Linked DNA regions of Homo sapiens: regions 2 and 3 are each linked to region 1. Evidence: fine-mapped expression QTL. A gene starts in region 1. Each other region holds a variant in brackets. All regions are shown on one strand. Distances are between the middles of the regions.

Region 1 (4,245 bases):
GAATTTACTAATCTACGTAATTTACTTCCTCCCACTACCATCACCTAATTCTCAGTTAATACCGTTGCCTCATAGTGAAAACAGAAGTAATAGGACACGAATTCCCACATCTTCCCACCTAGGTGAGTCTACCAACCTACCTTCATTTATATATGCAGGATGAAGCATCCCTGTACCTAGGAAAGGCCAACCTCTACACTTGGGCTCTGGATCCCATCCCCTTTTATCTTTTCAAGTGTTTCATATGTCAATCTCCTGGAAATTATCTCTTCTTTCCTCTAGATCACTTAATCTCTCTCCAGTGGATCACTCCCCTCAAAAAATACTGAGATGCCATAATACCCTATGCATAAAAAACCCTCCCTTGACCCCAGCTTCCTTTCCAACTGCTGCTGCATTTTTCAACTTTCCATTACCCCAAACTTAAGTATTCTATAATTGCTGTCTCCATTTCTTCATCTCACAGTCTTGTCTCAACCCATGCTAATCAGACATCTTTCCCACCCCTCTACTGAAACTGCTCTTGTTGAGGTCACTCCGCCTTGCCAAAACCCAGTCATCATACCTCCGTCATGTGCATTGAGCTCTTGGCAACTTTGACACAGAGGAACACACACTCCATGTAACATGTTCTTCTCTAGAGGTCTGGTAAACCAACTTTCGCTTTCTAGTCTTTTCTACTGGCTCTTTTTCCTTTGCTTGATCTCCAACTATTAGAATGCCCTAGGGTTTATATAAAACAAATAATCTGTTGATGTAGGCATGATTCCTCCATTTTACAGATGAGGAAACTGAGATCTTCAAAAGTTATACCACTTGCTCATGCTTTGTAAGTTATAGAATTGTCCCAGGCAGCCTGACTCCAACCACATTACCCTGTCTCATGGCCTTCACTGCACTTACCTTAAATTATCTTATTCATTTATTTGCGTACTTATTTTATTGTCTATCACCCCTCCACCACAACAGAATGTTCCACCAGAACAGGGGTTGTCTTGTTCTCTCCAACCCTACATCTAGAACATGCCTAGCAAATAGTTAAGCCCTTGAAAATAGTTCTAGAATGACTGAATGAACACTATATTGATGAATTGGTGTATAGCTTCCAAGCCTGGTTTAGGAAATAAGGCCGTCCCAGCCAGTAGGCTTGGATGGTGTGCCCCGTTAAGAGGCTTGAGTACTGGGAAGGCTGAGGTGGGAGGATCACCTGAGCCTGAGGAGGTCTGTGATTGCACTACTGCCTTCCAGCCTGTGCAACAGAGCAACAAGACCCTACACGCGGGGCGGAGGGCGGGGGCGGGGCGGAGGGCGGGGGGGGGCGGGGGCAGACTTAAATCGCTTTCAGCTTTCGAACTGCTTAACAGCTGCCTCAGTTTATGCTACACATTATTCCCAAGGCATAGATGATCCACTCCATGCTTTAAAAACTTAAGTGCAGAAAGATTAAGTGACTGACTTATTTAAAGTCAGACAATAAATCGGAGCATGAGTCACGATATAGGAGATAAGAGCACATGAAACTCTTATTTGCAAAAGGACTTAATCATTATTTTTAAAAGCCTCCTCCTTAATTCGGAAGAATAATACTGTCCTTCCACCCACAGTACATGGTGGGGGTGGATTCCAAAGCTGAAAACCAGCCAACAGGGAGTGCAGCGGTGCAGGCTGGGACTCGGGGTCCCAGGGCTGAGTCGCCTCGCCAGTTTCCCTCCTGCAGCGTCCGGAGGTGCTGCTCTGGGTACCTTCTCAAGTCCCTTCGACCCAGCCCGCCCCGCAGCCTGATTTTCTGAGACCTCGTCCCGGGACTCACGGAGCTCGTGTCCGGCAACTGCTGTGTCCTCCTCTCCAAGACCCTCCCGCTTCGGGATCCGGGACAGGCTCCTCCAAGGCAGGGCGGCCGCGCCCCACAGGTCTTCCCTGAGACCCTTGGCGGCCGCAGCAGCCCGGAGCAGCAGCCCCCCTGCCGTGGCCCCTTGGCCCCGGGCGCGCCCGGCGGGGTCCATAGTCTCCTCCGCGGGCCCTGAGCGCAGGGCCAGACCCAGACTCGGACCCAGATCCAGACCCAGACTCGGACACAGATCCAGACCCAGGCAGGCCCAGGGCGCGGGGGCTGGACGCAGGCAGGTCAGCCCGGCCGGAGCGCAGGATCGAGTCCGCTCTCTGTTGTGGCGGTTCGCTGGGCAACAAGCCCCTAGTTTCCAGCCCTGCCCTGACTTGGGCTGGCCTGGGATAATCCGCCCTCAGGTGTGGCGTGCACAGTGCTAAGGTTTGGTTCTCTGGAAAATAAAACATCCAGCGACCATCGAGAACGGGCCATGATGACAATGGCGGTTTTGTCGAATAGAAAAGGGGGAAATGTGGGGAAAAGAGAGAGAGATCAGATTGTTACCGTGTCTGTGTAGAAAGAAGTAGAAATAGGAGACTCCATATTGTTCTGTACTAAGAAAAATTCTTCCGCCTTGGGATGCTGTTAATCTATAACCTTACCCCCAACCCCGTTCTCTCTGCAACATGTGCTGTGTCAACTCAGGGTTAAGTGGATTAAGGGCGCTGCAAGATGTGCTTTGTTAAACAGATGCTTGAAGGCAGCATGCTCGTTAAGTCATCACCACTCCCTAATCTCAAGTACCCAGGGACACAAACACTGCGGAAGGCCGCAGGGACCTCTGCCTAGGAAAACCAGAGACCTTTGTTCACGTGTTTATCTGCTGATCTTCTCTCCACTATTATCCTATGACCCTGCCACATCCCCCTCTCCGAGAAACACCCAAGAATGATCAATAAATACTAAAAAAAAAAAAAAAAAGAATAAGCAGAGAAATTGGGGAGGGTATTCAAAGCTGAACAACTAATGGTCCAAGGATATCACTATCACTATCATTAACACATGCTTTAGTCACCAGGAACTGCCAATTTTACTTCTCAAATCTCTTAATTACATCTGCTTCTCCATTTTTATTTCCATTGCCATCATTGCTTGTCACTGAATTTATTGTAATAACTTCTTCATAAGAATTTATTGTAATACCTTCTTCATAAGAATTTGTTGTTAGATGGATTTATTGTCTGTTGCTACATTTCAGGCACAGAATTAAGCACCTTTTGCACAGCCTCACTTAATTCTGAGGTATGGTGTATTCTATTATTAGCCCCGTTTGATAGAAAAGGATTCTGAGGCTTGAAGACGTTGGTGGAAGAAACAGAACTTGCCCCTAACGAGCATGACTTCTAAGAATGTGTTGTCAAGGGCGTGACTCACTCACCTTGCTCTACAGCAGGGGGTCACTTTGCTCCATCCCCAGGCCAAATCCCGCTGCTGCCTGTTATTGTAAATAAAATTTGTTTTAACACATTAAAAAAAAAAATTCCTGCAAAATCTACAAGCCCCAATGAACTCCCAGCTCTACTCTACCACTTCTTTGTATAATTTTGAGAAATGTCAAGGTTGAATTTATAACTAACACTATAGGAACTTCAATATTAAATCATTTCTAAATGGGCTTCCAACATTTTCTTTTGAATAAAGTAAGACTTGATTTCTCATTTGAAGACCATGAATTTTAATCTTTCCTGGCGGATTCTTTTGAAAAGTGAAATAATACAGAAGCAAGTCAAATTCTGACCCCCCAAATAAACTTCAAATAAGAAAGGTAATCAGGTTTTCATTTATTTATTCTTCTTACAAATTTACAAAAGATGTATCATTTTAATGTAAATTATGTAATATCAATGTTCATTTCAAACTTGTCAGTTTTTCCCTTCAAATTATTGTGCACCAAATTTGAGGCATTAAATTCAAAACAATGTTTCCTAATCAATGAAAAAACAAACATGACAAAATATTATTTATTTTATCAGAACACCGCCCATAACCTCAAACTTTCCTCTTTTAAAAAAGGGAAATGGGCCTAATGTTTGTAATAGAGATATGATAAAAACAATAGCAGGTAAGTTGAATTGAGTATTATGCAGAAATATCAGACAATGTACTAATATGGAAAGTATAATATGTAAATGGAAAAACAGGGCACCAAATTATATGTATATGTAGCATGTTTACAAGTAAAATTCTAAAAATCAAAAGAAAATACCCACACAAAAGAAGGAATAATAGTGAAAACAGCAGCAGATCAATGGAAAGCATACAGCCAAGTACAGAAAAATCTCCCAGTCTGGGTAACAAAGTGAGACCCCCTCTCTACAAAAATTAGCCAGGCATGGTGGTGCATGCCTGTAGTCCCAGCT
Region 2 (4,245 bases), 47 kb before region 1:
GAGGCTTAGCCTGCATTACTGCACCACTTGAAAGAAACAAAATTGTCCTTCTTTAAAAACAGGTTTACACAATAGCCAAAAGGTGGACGCAACCCAAATGTCCATCGATGGATGAATGAATGAACAAAATGTGGTATAGACATACAATGAAATGTTATTTAGCTTTGAAAAGAAATGAAATTCTGACACATGCTACAACATAGATAAACCTTGAAGACGTTACGCTAAGTGAACTAAGCCAGTCACAAAAAGGCAAATACTATGTGATTCCACTTATATGAGGTACTTAGAGTGGTCAAATTCATAGAAACAGAAAGTAGAATGGTGGTTCCCAGGGGCTGGGAGAAGGAAGAAATGGCAAGTTATTGAATAAGTGTAAAGTTTCACTTTTGCAAGATGAAAGTTTTGGAGACCAATTGCATAACAATGTGAATATGCTTAACCATACTGAACTATATACATAAAAATGGTTAAGACAGTGTTTATGTGTGTGTATTTTACCACAAATTTTTTAATTTAAAAAAACAAGTTTAGACATATGTAAAGTCATTCATTGCAGCTATGTTTATAAGAGCAAAACCTTAGGAACAACTTAAATGTCAATCAAGTGAGGACTAGCTGAACAAGTTGTGATATGTCTGTGCCACGCTATACTATGCAGCTCTAAAAAAAAAAAGAATGAAGAAACTCTCCATGTAGTAATATCTCCACTTAATAATGCTAAAAAAGCTAAATGCAGAACAGTATACTAGTTATAGGTATGCCATCAGTGTCTAAAAAGGAAGGAGGAAGGGAATAAGAGTAAAATGTGTTTATGTTTGCTTGCATATGCATAAAAAACTCTGGAAGGAACAGAAATAATTTATAATAATGGATATATATAAGCGGGGTAGTATGGTAACCAGACAAGTAGGAACAGGGGTGGGTGGGAAATTTTTACTGTTAAACCCTTACTAATTATATTCTTTTATTTCTGGACCATACGAATCTATAATCTTTTCAGAATTTGAATTTAAAAACACATATTTTTTCTTCAGAGTAAAAATTTTTACTGACATAGCTCAACCAAAATTGGGGTATTTTACTGACTATGAAGATGCATGGTTTCTCCAGTTTGTGCCCATTTCACAAAGGATATTCCAATAACGCTGCTCAAGGCTGACATCCAACAGGAAGGTCTTAGCAACCATCTCAGCTGAATGGAGTAAAGTCCATGCACTTACCTTGTCAACAGCCTTCAAGTCACAGCCTGCCTTCAGCAGGGTTTCCACCAGTTCCACATTTCCACGATCAGCAGCTACATGCAGAGGGGTTTGCTGCTTCTGCCATGAAATTAAGGAGGGGAACAAACTTGGACGGTGAAAAGACAAATGGAAAGTATAGCCATCCTATTTAGGTTCAAGGGAAAACACAGGTCATATATTTTTTAATGGATACTGGGGCATTCATTGCATTATTATTTGCAATAGTGAAAAACTGAAAGGAAATTACATGTTTAACAAGGAGACTCACTAGATAAATTATGATAATCTATATATTGGAATAACAGGCAACCATTAAAAATTATTTTTTTAAAAATGATTTCAATATTAGGTACCTAAAGTAGTCAAATATATAGAGACAGAAAGTAGAATGGTGGTTCCCAGGAGCTGGAGGAGGGAATGGGAAGTTACCGTTTAATAGATATAAAATTTCAGTTTGGGAAGATGAAAAATGTTCTGAAGATGGATGGTGGTGATATTATACCAAATGAATGTAATTAATGCTGCTGAACTGTACACTTAAGATGGTTAAAA[T/A]GGTGGATTTTATGTGTATTTTACTACAATAAAAATTATTTCGAAGATTTTTTAAAAATAAAAGACGCTTTTGATATAACATTTGAAACTTTAGGAAATGATACTATCTAGTTGAGCTTGATTTAATGAAAAATACACATAGAGAAAGAGACAAAAATACAGTACAGAAAAATGCTAATGATAAGGTCTAGATGAAGGGATTAGAGTTTATTTTTATTGCCTTCTCAATGCATTTCTGTTCTCTAAATTTTCTACGTTATAATGTATAAAGGAGTCCAAGACTTCAAATTTCCTTCTGGAGTAATCATTTTCCTATCAAGAGGATAAGAGTTTCAAAAGAAATATCTGAAATCACAAGAAAATCACCCGTCTTAACCTCTCACCAAAAGGAATGCAGATGTGAAGAGATTTCTAAAATATTAGGGCAGAGAGGATCCTTTGATGTGATCTAGCCCAACTCCTTAACCAGAAAGGGAAGCAACTACCCCAGACTCACAGAGCTGGGCAATGGCATGTGGCCCACTACTCTTCCTACCAGAGCACAGGGCCAATATGCTGGGGATATTACCAAAAAACATTTATATATTTATTTATATTTTAATTTTTTTCTTAGAGACAGTTTCTTACTCTGTCACTCAGACTGGAATGCAGTAGCATGATAGTAGCTCACTGTAACCTCGAACTCCTGGGCTCAAGCAATCCTCCCTTCTCAGTTTCCTGAGTAGCTGAGACTACAGGCTCTACTAATTTTTTTTTTTTTTTAGCGATGAGGCCTCACTATGTTGCCCAGGCTGGTTTCAAACTCCTGGCCTCAGGCAATCCTCCTATCTTGGCCACCCAAAGTGTTGGGATTACAGGTGTGACCCAAAACACCTGGCTTCCAAAAAGTATTTCTTTTTTTTTTTTTTTCTTGAGATGGAGTCTCACTCTGTTGCCCAGGCTGGAGTGCAGTGGTGGCGATCTCAGCTCACTACAACCTCCACCTCCTGGGTTCAAGCAATTCTTCTGCCTCAGTCTCCCAAGTAGCTGGGATTACAGGCGCCCAGCTAATTTTTTGCATTTTTAGTAGAGACAGGGTTTCACTATATTGGCCAGGCTTGTCTCAAACTCCTGACCTCATGATCCGCCCGCCTCAGCCTCCCAAAGTGTTGGGATTACAGGCATGAGCCACCACGCCCGGCCCCAAAAAGCATTTCTTAAAGACTCACCTTCAAATGGCAGTGTGTCTAGGTGTTTGTCATTCAAGACATTACACTTATACTGACAAACCTATCAAAGATCTGTACCAACATGGAACAGATGAAAATGGAATGTATCAAATGCAACAAAACCCATTTTAACAATACTGCTACAAGTCTAGAAGGCAGGAAATGCACTAAAACATTAAGAAGAGTTATCTTTCTTTGCTGGGGACTTCAAACACATTAAGTTTTTTTAGCTTATATTTTTAATTTTACATACATATTTTATATTTAAAATATAAAATTTCCTATTTTTTATGTGTATTCTTGGTCTAATAAAAAAATTAAAGTGATGAAGTCTGGTTCTGAAAAAGGATAGCAAACCTAACAAACACTCCTTCCCTAGAGTACATCTAGCCAGTTCTGTCAAAACCAATATCACATGTGAGCACGAAGCTCTGCCTCTGTGTTCAGCAAAGATTTTGCCCATTGGGAAAGATTTTAGATATTAACGTAGTTGAATACATAAGTATATTTAATAACAAAAGGAGATTGGTTTTTTTCCCCAGAAAAACTTTTGGGATAGGTAAAGGCAGGGGAGGAGGCTAGGTTCCCTGGAGGAGAGAAGGGACCGAAGTACAGGTAAATCTTCATTCAGCTCAGAGCAAAATTGAGCTCATAGGTGGGAATTGGAGGAGACTGCAGAGATCTGAGTCAACGCTCTGGTTTCACAGTGTATTAGGACAGGCAGGCATGCCCACTGCACCATGGCTCCTCCCTAGCCGGAAGGGCACCGCAGAGCCTTCTCTGGGAAGAGGCAGCCAGAAGGTCTCATCTGGCCTCGGGACCCTGGAAAGGCTCCTCTTCCCACTCCCCTACATATCCTGGAAGAGGGCAGGCCAGCCCCAGAAGAGCCCCAGAGAGCAGGCTCATTCAGTGCCCACCCCCATTCCCTTCATCATTCCGTTGCGGCATTCCCATTTCCAGCCAGTGATGGATTACTTTAACGAGTCATTTGATTCTGCTCCAGTTGACTGAAATTGGAGTGATTTTTCTTTTATTCCAAGAGGCCTCTTTTGCCTTTAGGTAAAGAGAAGATACATTTACTGTCTTTAATATAGAAACAAAGCTTCCTTCTTGTGGGGGAAAGGCTCCCTGCCAATTACAATATTTCACTCTGGGGGAGTGGCTTTTGATTTAAAGAGCCTCTGGCCATTTAGCTCTGAGCTACTGTTTTTCTATCAAAAATGCTGGGCCTGTTAAACATG
Region 3 (4,245 bases), 65 kb before region 1:
AAATGACAGAGATCTATACACAGGCATTATCTCATGGTGAGCTTCCTGGTTTTGACTTTGTTATATTCTAATTATGTCAGATGTAACCATGGCAGGAAACTGGGTGAAGAGCACACAGTACTTTTCAATATGATCTCTGTGTCTTTCTATAAATCTATCATTTAAAAAAAAAAAGTTGGTTTTTTAAGTTTCTAAAATCTTATAAAATCGTTGGCATACTCAGGTTAAAGGGATATTTTGGGGTGTTCAGTTTTGTTTTGCTTTTCGTCTTGTGATTTTGTTTTTTCCATGTTAAAGTTGGTTGAACATACAGTTATTTTAAGTGCCTGTGTATTCTTCATAATTTATGGAATCAATAGATTTTGCTGTGGATTTTCTGCCACCTTGTTACTTCTTTTATTTTTTTTTCTTCTTAGTATGTGCCAAGAGTTGTAACCTCTGCACAACAGAAAGCAGGAAGAACTATTACAGCCCGGATCACAGGAAGATGTGATTTTGCTTCAAAAAATAGAATTAGCAGCAGTTTAGCTATAATGGGAGTTTCTCCTCCCATGAGCTCAGTTGTTGTGGAAAAACATCATCCAGTCACAGTGGTGAGTCCACATTTGATGACCTTTTGTCAAAAAGTCTTTTTCCTGAGAGTTCATAGACTAGTAAACACTTACATAACATGTTGAGAAGATAAAAATTTATGATGACTGGTACTTGTTCTGCCTTTTCCTGTTACAGTTTTTTTTTTTTTTTTAATATATATACTTGTTTTTCTCAAACCTGCTATAAATCTACGTTTCTGCTGTTGGGAAATTAATTTCAGAAACATCGTTTCTTCCAAACTGTAAAAATTATAAAATACTAAAAGTAATCCAGTGTGTTTGTGGTCAAAAGAGTAAAATATGTAAATGCTTTATTATCAGTTTAAAAAGAGACAAAAATTGTTCACTCACTAGCTGCTCATGTAGCAGATATTTGATTACAAGAAAACTCCCCTACATTTATAGTTTTTAATTTTTGGTCCTTTTTTAAAAAAAGTCTTCCCCTTTTTTCAGTACAATTGTCAGCATGTTTTTAGTTTAACAAAATTCAACTTGCAGTAAATGCATGTGATATAAAGAAGGTGCATTGAATTTGAAGCAAAAATTTTAAAACCCGAGTTAGTGCTTCAGCTTTGCTACTTGTTGGCTTTGTGATATATACAAATCAAGTAAAATATTTGAGCCTCCACTTTCTCTTCTGTAAAATGGGGTTAATAAAAATAGTTAGCTCCTTGGGTTATTGTTAGGATTCAAGATTAAATGAGATAATGTGAAAATTAAACGAGATGTATTAAGGCATTTTATAAACTATAAAACCATAAGCAAATTTAACTTACTGAAAGTTACTAGAAAAAGATACATGAGATATCTCTGAATTATTTCCTACAAATGTGTACGAATCAACAATTATCTCAAAAAGTATAATAAGAGTGATAAGAACATCCCTAAAGAAAAACAAGGATTTATTTATTTATTTATTTATTTATTTTTTATTTATTTTTTTTTTTGAGACAGAGTTTCTCTCTTGTCTCCCAGGCTAGATAGAGTGCAATGGCGCAATGTTGGCGCACTGCAATCTCCGCCCCCTGGGTTCAAACAATTCTCCTGCCTCAGCCTCCCGAGTAGCTGGGATTACAGGCACCCGCCACCACCCCCAGCTGATTTCAGGGACTGATTTTAAAAGAGAATGCCCTCTATAAATTCTCAGCATCGGACAACGTTCCTGTGTACTTTCTAAGTATTAGCAAAAAAAAAGTATATGGAATGATTTTAAATCCTTTTTTCCCGAGTACTAGCTGGGCACTAGATGATTAAATGAAGACAAGCTGGATTGATTTGAACTGAACTTCAGGTGAAGTGGGACCTTAGCGAGGTGGAAGGCTGGAGATAGAAGCACCAAGTCCAGATAGAGACATGGAGATGACAGAGGATTTATTTTAGAATTATCTTAGGTTTCATGTTTCATAAGTTGGACAGACTCTGAAAGTTCGTAGAAGACTTTTCTATATATTTTTGAATATGGAAGACAAGTTATCAAAAATGAGAAGAAATAAACCCACTTCTGTTTTTTCAGATGTAGAAAATGTATAGAGATGGTGAGAGACTGTCCATTTGTGAGGTAAAGAAGGTGTAAAGAGAGCACATGTGTGTTTATTTTTTATTAGACAAGCTTTTGTTTTGTAGTAATGATGGGAATTCATATTTTACAGAAGAAAAATCAAAGTACTAAACATTTAGAACCCTTGTTTCTGATACTTATCTCCCATGCTGCCCTCCCTTTATTCAGTATGTGCATTTCTTACCCACTAACTG[T/C]GTATGAACCAGATAGCCATCAGCTGCCTGGATTATGTGACAGACACAGTGGCAGTCATTTGTACTGTATTTCTTTTCACCCTGGGAATCAAGATCTAAATCTACCAGAAATAGTTATTACTAAAAAACCAAGGATGCGATTTGTGACACTGTAGCCTCATCTGCTGGGTAACTGCATGCTTCTAGGGCCACTTCATTCTCTGTCATATTTTGTGTATCATAATTTCAGTGGCTACTTTATTTCTACAGTTCCTCTTGCCCATCCTCCTCAAGGAGAAAGCCTTTTTGGCAGGCTCAGGTTAGTGGCTGGCAACTAATTAGGTGACTGGCAACTAAAATTTCTTATCTGTTGCAAGAGTATCTCCTATTTATAATGGTTATCCAGTTGTTTATGTACAAATAAACGTTTTTATAAGATACTTTAAGAAAAGAAGTTATTTTTCTTTAAAAAGGAGTTCTGTTCTTTTTAAAATGGAATCTGACAGGATCTTTTGTTTTTAAGAAGTTTCATTCTTTTTTTAAGCAAAAACTACAGCTTGGAGTTTTTTAAATACATAGTGAATGTTTTGACCAAATACATGTAATTTTACTTAAACTATTTTAACAATGACTTTTCTAAGTGGAAGACCCTAATAGAAATTGACATGTCCTAGTCAGTGATATGGACTGAGAACTTGATAACAAATCCCACTGCTGGCTACTAAGAAGCTTTATCGGGTTTAATAGGGAAAAGCCTTGTACTGATACATATTGTTCATGTTTACATGTAAATGTGTACTTGTATACATAGTGTGTACTTACATGCATTACATGCATATTATGTGTGTCAAGTAAGTCACGTGTGTCCTGACTTTAATGACTCAGTGCTCATGTCTGAGGTGTTCCTTTGAGCTCTGAGGTGATGTGCATAAAAGTTTTAGTCTGCTCCCAGGTGAACCAGGTTAAATATGAGGGCTCTGGTTTAAAGCAAGGACCAGACTGCATCCTGAGGGCTTCCGTGTGCCCCTGGGATTGTGAGATAATCACATCCACATACTAACAGTCAAGTAGAGAGAAGGAAGTTGGATGGAATGAGGGGAGGACTCAGGGCTGACCCCTCTTCCAGACACCACAGAGTTTCTCTCTGTATACAAAGCCTCTGTACACATTACAAGATTCCACTTGGCCCTGTTGGAGGAATGGCTGCCGTGGCTTTCTTAATGAGCCTTGTGGATATAGCTCTGATATTACACTGTGGGTGTTGAACATGTCAGTCAGACTGGGTAGGGGTTCCTTACAGACAAAGGCCTCATCTAATTAACAGCTGCTTCACTCCACTCATTGCTTCTTTCTACTGGATCTTAACAAATGTTTATTGGGTTAAATTATAGATGATAGATGATGAAATGATACATAGTATACATAATCTTGGGATATTATTAAAGCAGAATTTTGTCTTTTCAGCAAACCATTCCTCAAGCAACTGCAGCAAAATATCCCCGGACCATTCATCCTGAAAGTAGTACCTCAGCTTCCAGATCACTTGGAACCAGATCAGCTCACACCCAGTCTCTCACAAGTGTTCATTCCATAAAAGTGGTTGACTAAAGTGAATATGTCCATAGTGGGGTCTTTTAATCCCTCTGGTCTTACCAAGGGTTAGAAGTCTTTTGGTTTTAACTTTTCCATATTGTTAGAACATCATGGAGACATCATGTTCATCTGTTCAAAATTACAAGAGGCTTTTTCAAGCTCTACCATGCTTTGTAACTATATGTAGAAATTATTTTAATGTTATTTTTTATTTAAGCAATTAAGTAAAACTTTTTTAAATTAAAAAAGAAACTGGACTTTATTTCTTTAATATGTTTAGCCTGTTGCTGATTACAGCATCAAAATATATAAATTTATTTTCACTATT

Which allele goes with the higher level. Alleles are on the strand shown, and positions count from the first base shown. SD is a standard deviation of normalised expression in the study named. Not every link is listed here.
For the expression in tibial nerve of the gene that starts at base 2,185 in region 1, allele T in region 3 goes with a lower level than allele C (moderate effect, 0.45 SD a copy in GTEx).

What was found. PIP is the estimated chance that this variant, and not a neighbour inherited with it, causes the effect. A credible set is the group of variants that fine-mapping cannot tell apart.
Region 2: its variant is the best candidate, but not a certain one, in a credible set for the expression of ANKDD1B in T cells (TOPMed, PIP 0.59).
Region 3: its variant is the best candidate, but not a certain one, in a credible set for the expression of ANKDD1B in tibial nerve (GTEx, PIP 0.89).

What each region holds. Positions count from the first base shown.
Region 1 is chr5:75,609,393-75,613,637 of GRCh38, reverse strand. It overlaps ANKDD1B (ankyrin repeat and death domain containing 1B), which reads right to left and starts at 2,185. Exons shown (of 14, transcript NM_001276713.2): 1 at 1,811-2,185. The coding sequence starts at 2,003. POLK (DNA polymerase kappa) reads right to left here. Exons shown (of 15, transcript NM_016218.6): 15 at 3,647-4,245. RefSeq lists enhancers at 1,078-1,884, 1,885-2,691, 2,692-3,499.
Region 2 is chr5:75,656,360-75,660,604 of GRCh38, reverse strand. ANKDD1B (ankyrin repeat and death domain containing 1B) reads right to left here. Exons shown (of 14, transcript NM_001276713.2): 10 at 1,224-1,322. Among named protein-coding and RNA genes, the nearest start is that of ANKDD1B, 47 kb to the right of the region's middle. The variant T/A (reference allele first, on the strand shown) is at 1,797.
Region 3 is chr5:75,674,122-75,678,366 of GRCh38, reverse strand. It overlaps POC5 (POC5 centriolar protein), which reads left to right. Exons shown (of 12, transcript NM_001099271.2): 11 at 417-593; 12 at 3,789-4,243. The coding sequence ends at 3,932. Among named protein-coding and RNA genes, the nearest start is that of POC5, 41 kb to the left of the region's middle. The variant T/C (reference allele first, on the strand shown) is at 2,346.